Linked DNA regions of Homo sapiens: region 1 is linked to region 2. Evidence: fine-mapped expression QTL. A gene starts in region 2. The other region holds a variant in brackets. All regions are shown on one strand. Distances are from middle to middle.

The links.
Region 1: its variant is fine-mapped to the expression of CHIC2 in whole blood (TOPMed, PIP 0.95).

The regions. Positions count from the first base shown.
Region 1 is chr4:53,910,546-53,915,929 of GRCh38, reverse strand. The region is part of intron 1 of LOC124900702 (a long non-coding RNA gene); the gene reads right to left. Among named protein-coding and RNA genes, the nearest start is that of CHIC2, 150 kb to the left of the region's middle. The variant G/A (reference allele first, on the strand shown) is at 2,375.
Region 2 is chr4:54,061,303-54,066,686 of GRCh38, reverse strand. It overlaps CHIC2 (cysteine rich hydrophobic domain 2), which reads left to right and starts at 2,082. Exons shown (of 6, transcript NM_012110.4): 1 at 2,082-2,505. The coding sequence starts at 2,387. RefSeq lists enhancers at 1-177, 2,174-2,674 and silencers at 1,775-2,014, 2,245-2,374.

The DNA.
Region 1 (5,384 bases), 150 kb after region 2:
GATGAGGCTTCCAGACAGAGGGGATGATAAGTGCAAAGGAACCCAGGCAGAAGCATGCATGGGCTGTTCAAAGAACTCAAGTGCAGTTGGATCAGAGAGGGTGAGGAGAAGAGTAACAGGAGATGAAGTGAGAGAGGAAGTGGCCAGGAAGCCTAGCATTGTGCAGATCTGTTCACTGCACCGTAATGCCTGAGCTCACCAAGCCTTGTGCCTTGATGCAGGATTGTGTCTGCCTGGAGGAAGAAGCATGTTTTTGGACTAACAACAAGCTCTCTCTCTCTCGCTCTCTCTTTGAGATGGTCTAGCTCTGTTGCCCAGGCTGGAGTGTCATGGCACAATCTCAGCTCACTGCAACCTCCACCTCCCGGGCTCAATCAATCCTCCCCGCTCAGCCTCCAGAGCAGCTGGACTACAGGCACACACCACCATGCCTGGCTAATTTTTTTTGTATTTTTTTTGTAGAGATGGGGTTTCACCATGTTTTCCAGGCTGGTCTTGAACTCTTGGGCTCAAGTTATTTGCCTGCCTCAGCCTCCCAAAGTGTTGGGATTACAGGCATCAGCCACTGCGCCTGGCCAAGCTCTTTTTAATACCAATGGCCTATTCTGCAAGAAAAAGATGTCCACTGGGAGACTTGAGGCAGAGGAATGGCATATCTGACTTACTTATTCTTTGGAAACTGTGTTAAGATTAGACAATAGAGGGCAAAGATGAAATCAGAGAAACAAAGTCGAAGCTTTTACATAAGACGGTGACTTGGCTACTTGATGACATTAGTAGCTTGAAGGCATTTCCATTCTAGAGGTTGACAGCTTGGTCCAGTACTCAATGGCAGCAAACCTGGCTTAGACTTTTCTGGAAGCCTGTTGTAGCAGATGGCAGCCCCTTTTAGAAGCACAATCTAGGTGAGCTTGCCCTATGCATCATGCCCTTCCCCAGCCCGTTATAATTTGCCCTATTATAACATTGTAAGTCACCACTTATTGAACACCCACTATGTGGCAGGCTCAGTGCCAAGCATTTTGCATACCCATTTTCTTAACATCTTGCCCAACTGCATGAGGAATATCATAAGGAAGCTGAGAAAGAGCTCAGGAAGTTGCATGATATTGTACCATTTGTAAATGGCAGGGCTGTGATGCAAAAATCACATTATTCTTACCAAGACCTGGCTCTTCACTGCCTTGCTATATTAGGTTGGTGTAAAAGTAATTGCAGCCATTAAAAGCAATGGCATACAAAATATACGTTGCCTGGGTCTTCTCAGCTCTGTTCTGGGCTGTTAGTCAAATTACAAAGAACTAGCCTCCCCTCTGTTTGATATGAATCTCTCCCAGGCCTTTGCTCTCTTGTCTTCTAGATAAGTTAGCCAGACAGGCAGCTGACTAAGAAGCTATCCTATTTTTAAAGAGAAGAACATTTCATAATTTCCTTTGGTAACTCAGTTACTTCTAGTAAACAATGACTTGACTAACTACACTGTCACCCGGGGGGTGGGACTGTATCGTTGCATCTAGTACCTAGGAGGATGCTGACTCAATTAGTATTTGCTAAACAGATAAATGGAGTAATGAGCTTATCAGAGAATCTGATTCAAGATGAGGAAGACCCACAGAATGGACTAGCTGAGGAATGAGAGAGCAAGCAGTCAACCTTAGATGTGATCCCAATACAAAACTTTTTTTTTTTTTTTTCACAATGTAACCTTTAATCTTTTGAGGGGAGAAAGAAGGAAGGGAGAGGAATGAGCAAGACACAGGTAGCTCTGATGAAGAAACTCTCTAAAAAAGAGGGAATAAAAGAGACTTTTATTTTGCTTTCTTTTAATCAAATTATGTGTGGTCCTGGTTGTCAAGAGAGTTCTTAGTTTAAGTTCTAGCACTATCATTTATTTTTGTTTTTTAACTTTTATTTTAGGTTCAGGGATACATGCGCAAGCTTGTTACATAGGTAAGCCTGTGTCATGGGAGTTTGGCGCACAGATTATTTCATCACCAAGGTACTAAGCCTAGTACCTAACAGTTATTTTTTCTGATCCTCTCCCTCCTCCCATCCTCCACCCTCAAGTAGGCCCCGGTATCTGTTGTTCCCCTCTTTGTGCCCATGTGTTCTCATCATTTAGCTCCCACTTATAAGTGAGAACATGTGGTATTTGGTTTTCTGTTCCCATGTTACTTTGCTAAGGATGATGGTCTCCAGCCTCATCCATGTTTCTGCAAAGGACATGATCTTGTTCTTTTTTTGTGGCTGCACAGTATTCCATGGTGTATATATACTACATTTTCTTTATCCAGTCTATCATTGATGGCCATTTAGGTTGATTCCAGGTCTTTGCTATTGTGAATAGTGCTGCAATGAACATATACATGCATGT[G/A]TCTTTAGGGTAGAATGATTTATATTTTTGGGGGTATATACTCAGTAATGGGATTGCTGGTTTGATTGGTAGTTCTGTTTTTAGTTCTTTAAGGAATCACAACACTGCTTTCCAGAATGGTTGAACTAATTTACACTCGTACCAACAGTGTATAAGTGTTCCCTTTTCTCTGCAACCTTGCCAGCATCTGTTATTTCTTGACTTTTAGTAATAGCCATTCTGACTGGTGTGAGATGGTATCTCATTGTGGTTTTGATTCACATTTCTCTAATGATTAATGATATTGAGATTTTTTTCATATAGCACTGTCATTTAAGGCATGTGACTTTGAGGCAGTTGCCTCACCTTTTTAAGCCTTAGTTTTCTCATTGGAAGAGTATGGGCTACAATGCAATTGAACGTACTTGCTGTGTGTCAGGCACTGTTCTAGGAGCTTTCACAGATATATTATTTAAGCTCTACAGTAACTCACATGAGATAAGTGCTCTTATTATCCCCATTTTGCAGAGGAGGCAACTGAGGCATGGAGAGAATGAGTAACTGCCCGGGTATACACAGCTAGTGAGTCGTAGAGCTCCAGTTCGAACCCACTCAGTCTGTGCTCTTAACTACCTCATTATTTTCCCATAGACTTATTGTAGAGATCAAAGAAAATACTGTTCACAAAAGTATTAGGTTGGTGCAAAAGTAATTGTGGTTTTTGTCATTTAAAAGTAATGCATACTTAAAGTATAAGATTTCATAACCAAGGACCCAGAATGATGCCATATAGCATGATTCTGTAAATGCTTAATAAGAAGTCATGATTATAAGGGTTGTCTGACTCTTTCCTGGAGGCTGAGAGAATAAAGAGCCAAGAAGGATGTCTTCATCTGGTCCTGAAGTGGAGGAGAGAAGGACCTGGCACTGTTTGGAGTTTGGAACCTCCTTCACGTAGTGCCTGGTTTGGGTCTGAAATGATTGTCCTCCAGCTAAAGGGCAGGACCAGCATTCCTGAATGCCCCAATGTGTTATGGATAAAGAGAAACATCTCCAAGAGAGCAAAGCTCTGAATAAGAATTACGGCTAGGGGGCATGGTGCACCCCAGGGAAGGAGTCAAGGGGGAGACATTCATTTTGGGGCCAGAAGGGATTCCAACTGGACCACCACAAGGAACTCTAAGCTTTTTATTAAGCAGCTACTTTGTGCCAAGTCCTGTGCAAAGCAATTTCATATACATTACCTTATGCAATACAGTAACTTTGGACAGAACATTCTATTATTTTCTTGTAGAGATGTGGAAATTGTGTCTCAGAGCAGTGAAGCAATGTATTCATGCTCATATACCTAATAAGGGGCACCTCTGGATTTAAACCTGATTCCAGGTCTTTTCAATACACCATACTGCCGCCTAACGTCCTATCTTCCTTCCAGTAACATTGCTTTCATTTTCCCCAAGAACAAAGTTGTAAGTCTGTCCAAAATGTTGGAATATACCTTACTTTTTATTTTTATTTTTATTTTGTGAGACGGAGTCTCGCTTTGTCTACCAGGCTGGGGTGAAGTGGCATGATCTCAGCTCACTGCAACCTCCACCTCCCAGGTTCAAGTGATTCTCCTGCCTCAGCCTCCCAAATAGCTGGACTACAGGCATGTGCCACCATGCCCAGCTAATTTTTTGTATTTTTAGTAGAGACTGCGTTTCACCGTGCTGGCCAGGCTGGTCTCAAACTCCTGACCTCGTGATCCACCTGCCTTGGCCTCCCAAAGTGCTGGGATTACAGGCGTGAGCCATTGTGCCCTGCCATACCTTACTTTTTAAATGAAGGTTTGCCTAGAAAGCTGTTGTAATTACTTGTATATAAACCAGATCATGTTTTAAAAAATGTCTTCAGAGCACTAGCATTTTCTATAGGAATTATCCATTTGTAAAGCAAATAAGAATTCTCTTTCCCTCCCTCTGGGACTAATTCAGGTTTCATGGCAATCCTTGCTTTTTTTTTGAGACAAGGTCTCACTCTGTCACCCAGGCTGGAGTGCAGCAGTGCAATCTTGGCTCACTGCAACCTCTGCCTCCCAGGTTCAAGCAATTCTCCTGTTTCAGCCTCCCAAGTGGCTGGGACTACAGGTGTGTGCTACCACATCCAGCTAATTTTTGTCTTTTTAGTGGAGATGGGGTTTAATAGTGTGGCCCAGGCTGGTCTCAAACTCCTGACCTCAAGTGATCCACCTGCCTCAGCCTCCCAAAGTGCTGGGATCACAGCCATGAGCTACCACACCTGGCCCAATGCTTGTTTTTATATTGGGCATTTAAAAGCCATTGTATATCAATATCAAGACAAGTGGAAACCATACAAGATCCAAGAAAACCGCATTCCTAAACCAACAGCACAGCACCTGGAAGAGAGATGGCAAATGGTGTCAAACTGTGATTTGGGATGTCAAGATGGTCTTCCAGAATGATGGTCTTCAAGCATGATGGTCTTCAAGCATCAGCCAGGTATACCTTGATTTGGAATGTGACCTTCTTCTAACCTTTCTCTGAGCACCAGTCCTGGTTTTCAGCGATTCCTTGGACATCTCCCCATCTATATTTTGTAGAAGTATCCAAGTCAACACACTCAAGGCCAAACTCCTGAGTTTCTTACCCCACCCAGCATTTCAGCCTTCCCTTAGTGCTTTTATGAATTACTTTTTCAGTCTTCCCTCGCTATAACTTCGCTTTTCAACATTTACTTTGTTGGCAAAACACTTTGAAACACTGTGCGTCTTACACTTGTACCTGTCTTTCCTTTTGGGTTGTGTCTACCACAAAACTTCGTTACATCTGTTTAAGCACTAACAGTGCCTTCCTTGGCCTCCTTGTCTCTGCTTTCCCTTTGAATCTGCTCCACATCTTCATGGCAGACCAATTTTCCTAAAATTAGCTCCCATCATGTTCCTGCTTGCATCAAAAACCTTTGGTGCTTTCCTGTGGTTGCCTTGGGAATCAAGTCCACCAGCCTGACGTTGAAGCTCTCTGCAGGCTTT
Region 2 (5,384 bases):
GCCACTGCACACCAGCCTAGGTGAGAGAGTGAGACTCTGTCTTAAAAAAAAAAAAAAAAAAGACATTCAGGAAAGCTTGGACCACCAGTATACTCAATTAGACCATTAAATCTTAAATCGTCACATGGCCTTGAGAAAGCCACATAGCATCTCTGAAATATAGCATATCATAGCATCTCTGAAACATAGCATATCTGAAAATAAATACACCCTCTTTGCTTACCTCACAGGTTCTTGGGGGAATATTAAATGATATATTATGTACGTGCTTTATAAGCAGTAAAATATTACATAATGCTGTGGTAACCCTCACAGGGTTGATAAGCTAGGGAGCCTTAAGCATCACCTATTACCCCGTATTTATTGTGTACTGGGCCTTCTTCTAGGCACTTCACCGATCTTAAGCCCTTGAATCTGCTGAGCATCCCAATGGGGCAGGTACTGAACAGGGAAGTTAAGTGGCTTGTCTAGGGTCACACAGTAAGTGGCAGAGCTGACATTCAAGGCCAGGTAGTCAGGTTCCAGAACACACATTGTTAAACACCAGACCAAGCTGCCTCCTGTGTGCCCCACTGACACTTCCTGTGTCCTCCTCCATGAGCCCCTGGCAGAGATGACAATTGCTTGCCTTAACAATAGATAAGCTACCAGAAGTCAGGGCCTGTGCCTCATTCACACACGTCCACAGTGCCTGCCACATAGCTAGAGTTCAGTAGATATTTGTTGAATGAACAAATACCCTCCAGGGAGGGATACAATAAGTCTGATACAACTACTGTATTTTTCCTTCATTTTTTCTTGGCTAACCACACTCATTTCCTTCAGTTGTTTCCAAAAGGAGGTTGGCATCTCTCACTGTCCTCATTGACCTCCTTTGCACTTTCTCCACGTCAACAGTGACCCATCTAAAGCCGACTACTGTGACATGAACACTGCACTTGAAGAGCCTGACCAGCGCTGGGCTCAGTAGAACTATCCTTTCTTCTCCCATGGTGTATCCTCACTGTCCAGGACTCTCTTCTCAGAAGCCCACTCCTTCCCCTGTGCTGTTTATATGCTTAATGAAACCAAGTACCCAAAGTGACCGTTCAACTGTTACTAGGCAGCTAAGTAGACTCCATTAAACCTTTTCCTTCCTTCCTCCCCTTCTTTCTTTCTCTCCCATTCTTCTTTCATTCTTCTCGTCCTTCCTTCTATCCTTTCTTCCTTCCTGCCTCCTTTTCTTCCTCTCCTCTGCCCTTTCTTTCAGGTCTTTTTTGTGGTAGGAACTGGTAAGAAAAGGAAAGGAATTCCCTAAGATTTTAAGGAAACAACAACAAAAACCAGGTTATGTTTGGTGAGAGAGTTGGGGCAAGAAACTGCATCTTCTAATATGGAATCCAGGTAATTTATCAGTTTTTTTTCATAGCATGACTACGGTGAGATTTCTTGTAAGAAAAAAAAAAAAATACCAGCATCGCTGGCCTCATATATTGGATTATACTTAAGGGGATCAAGGGATAAGATGTTTGAATTTGGAGATGTCTTGAAAAATCCTGTGGTGAGCACAAATGTTTGCAGTGTCTCTGCTGGACTCCTCAAATTGGGAAAAAAGAGACTCTGGTTCTCATCATAGACTCAAAACCTGAGGAAAAGCGAGATGCGATTATTAGATAAACTGGCAATGACACGCACAAAAATGTGTCTATTCCAGCCAGGGCTTTTCTTTTCAGTTGTTTGTTTTGGTTAGAGATGACTTTGGGGAACTGCATGTCCCACTGGACATTCCAAGCTGCGTTGTCGGAGTCGCGGGTCGCGGCCTCCAGTCAGCGGAGCCGCCGCCCCCAGGGTCCGCCACCCAGAAGTCGGCGGAGGGGGGCCCGCCGGCGGGAGCGCGCGCCCCGGTCGCCGTCTGCGGGTAGAAGCAGAGGAAAGACGGTGGCCTGGGAGCGCGCGAGGCCGCACGTGCGCGCGCCCGCCCGCCCGCCAGCCAGTCCGCTCGCCCACGCGCCCACGCACGCGCCCGCCCGCCCGTTGGCCCGGGAAGTCTCGCGATGCCGTAGCCGGCTGCTCCCGCTGCGGGTGGCTCGGGCTGTTGCTGTGGTTTCCTGAGTTGCTGCTGCTGCGGCGGCGGCAGCGGCGTCTGTGCTTGTGGAGGTGTCGGCCTCTGGGCGGATGTTGACATTGTGTTGTTGTTATTGCTGATGGTAATGGCGGCGGCGGTGGCGGCGACGGTCCAGACCCCATCCCCTCTGTAGCCGGAGCCGAGACAGCCGACAGCGAACTCCGCGGCCTCGGAGCCGGCGGCAGCGGCGACTCCCCTCAGCCTCCGCCGCCTCGCCCGCCGGTACCCCGGCGCCAACCCCGGGAGTCAGGCCCTTTGGGCAGGGGAGCTCGGAGGCTCAGGATGGCGGATTTCGACGAAATCTATGAGGAAGAGGAGGACGAGGAGCGGGCCCTGGAGGAGCAGCTGCTCAAGTACTCGCCGGACCCGGTGGTCGTCCGCGGCTCCGGTCACGTCACCGTGTAAGGCCCGGAGGAGGGCGAGGGCGGGAGGTGCGGGCTGGGGTGGGCCCCGTTACTCCACGGGAGCCCCGTTTCCCCTGTGTCCGTCTGGTGTCGGGGGCCTTCCGAAAGAGTAGGCAACCAGGAAGTGAGAACTTGGCTTATTTTCATTTGTTTGGGTCTCCGAAGTGGGGACGGACGCTGTCCTTCCTCCTCCACACACCCCTTTAGCAGGCCCTACAGGCCCGGGCGATGTGACGATCCCAGTAGGCACGGGTTTTCATTAGGGTCTGCCCTGCGGGCCACCCTTCCTCTTCAGGGTGGAAGTACGTGTATTGACAGGGAGCCTCCTTGTTTTCTCGCCCAGTTACCCTGTGGTTGTCTGTGCCTTTGCACCCAGTGACATGGCTCAGAGGCCAGATCTGGGCCGTGTGAGACCCCAGTGACAATTGGCAGCGAAGCTCCGTTTCGTGTCTATTTCACACATACCCACAGGTCTCCCAGTTTTTCCACTAATTTCCGCAGAACTAATGCAAGTTCTTGTAATTGTACGTGATAAAAATATATAGTTGAACACAAATTTAAGATATACAGAAAGAAATATGTTTACAACAACAACAACAACAACTACGTGAGGGACATACACTCTGCTCAGGTTACTGAGGGAAAATTGTAGTCCTGAAGCTCCTCCTTGGGGCACGAACTTGGGGCTTGTTAATTTGGAAAGTCCCACTAGTAACATTAAAAGTCTGATATTAATAAGGAATGAAAGCTTTCGGAAAGACCATGACAAAGGAATGTGAAGCCTTGAACCAAATAATGAGCTGTCCGGAAGCAGGAAGTTTTGTAATGTTTCACTATGAAGTCCACAGTTTTGTACCACTTGATGTATTACATTGATACTCTCTCATTTTAGATCTCTTGTTCAAATAATAGATCAGACTTCCATACTTGTCAGGTATCTCTGTACTTCTTCACCTTTTCAGTGAAACAAAAGAGCCAGCAAGTCTGAGAATGTCTGGAATAGTCTTCATTATATTTTGGTGAAGAGTGAGTGGGATGTGCTGTGAATAACTTAGGGAAACAGTAAGACTTCTCATATAAGTTTGTCAGCAAAATAATTGCATTTCTCGTATGACCAGCCATATTGTTGTTTGAGTATGCTTATGTAATGCTTTAATTTCTTTAGTACCTGTTAGTTTATGTTCAGGTGACTTAACAGGGTAAAAACACTGCATAATTGCCATCACAGCACCATGACAAGACAGTGGAATTTAATTCACCACAATAATACTTTCTAAGTGTTGTCACCAGCTTAAGAAGTATAACCAAATATCATGGATATTAAACTTTTAACATATATCACAGAATTCATAACCTGCCATTTGATTTTATTTTGACTTTTAGGACCTTTTTGCACTGTTTTAAGCCTAAGGAGTATGTGGATGCTTAAAGAAGTGATTTCCAAACTTTGTCATGCCATCTATCCCTCCTTCTACATTCCTCATGTCAAAGAAAAGCTAGAGAATTTTGTCATTTAAAAAGGCGACGCTGTAGTTGTAATGTTTCCTCTGTTAAGGAGAAGAAAAGCTAAGCACTTTGTTGGGCAAGTGGAAAATGCAATAGTGGGCAAAGTGCTCAGAACCTAGGTAATCAGTAAACTTGATTGTAGTTGGCTACGTGGAGAGGTTAATAGGGTAGAAAATAATTATTAGTGGTTTTCAAACTTAGCTGTCCATTAGAATCCTGGGTGTCTTTAAAAAAAGACCATTGTCTTTGCTCCACCCCAGGCCAGTTGAAGGCCAAATACTAAGTGAGGGTCCTAGGAGTGGACAGTTAAAATAATAAATAAATAAATAAATAAATAAATAAAATCTCACAGGTGATTCTAATGTGTAGCCAAGATTGAAAACTATTCCAGGTTATAGGGAGGGACTATCTATCATCAATAAACAGTATGCCTTTCTACATTGTGAGTTAAATCTCTGATTTTCCTCAGCAACTTCCTTCTTCTCCCATTTATCTTGGTTCTAGGCTCTGGGTTAAAATCTATCTCAGCTACTTCCTGGATAAATTGTTTATTCATGACCTTTAGTTGAGATGGGGATAGTTATAGTCGATACCTTTTAAGATTATTAAGGATTAAATGAGATAGTACATGAAAAGAATTTATTGCACTGTGTGGTACTATGTTCAATAGATACTAGTTTTTATTATTCTCCTCCTCAGATATAGTTTTCCACTTTGAGAAACAGGTGTAAAACAAAGTACTAAAAAATTAGAACTGCCATTATCAAACATAACAATGATTCACCTTAGTCTTATTTTTCCATTTCTAAGCAATGTGTATGTGCTTAAATTACTGTGTTTGAAGTATTTTGATGACAATAAGGATCTTTCTGCATTGAAAACTTAACCTGTTTTGTGGCGACATAGGTAATAATAGAAAACTTTTTTTTTTAACATGGCTCTGTCATGCATAATTCCCAGGCACACTAGCACACCATGCCAGTGGGTAGCCCAGTTAACATCTATAAAGGTTTTTAGAATTGGTGCATATGTATTACTATAACTGTTGAGCACATTCAATTTTTCTTGCTTTAAATATAAATGGGAAGAGCTATTAGAACAGTTGTAGTAAGACTGGCTAAATTTAACACCCCCTCCTCCACCTTTTTTTTTTATTAGGTGCTGATCAGAGCAGTCTTCCCTTACCAATTTGAAAGTAATTGACCATGTAAACTGAATCATCTGTAGTCTAGATCAGTCTAGAAGGATATAGATCAATCCATATGTTTTTCACAGATGTAACTTTTGAGTAGCCCTTTACAATTGACTATTTCTGCTCTTTTTTTCTACTTTAATATATTACAGTATTACTGTTTATTTTAGAAACTGGT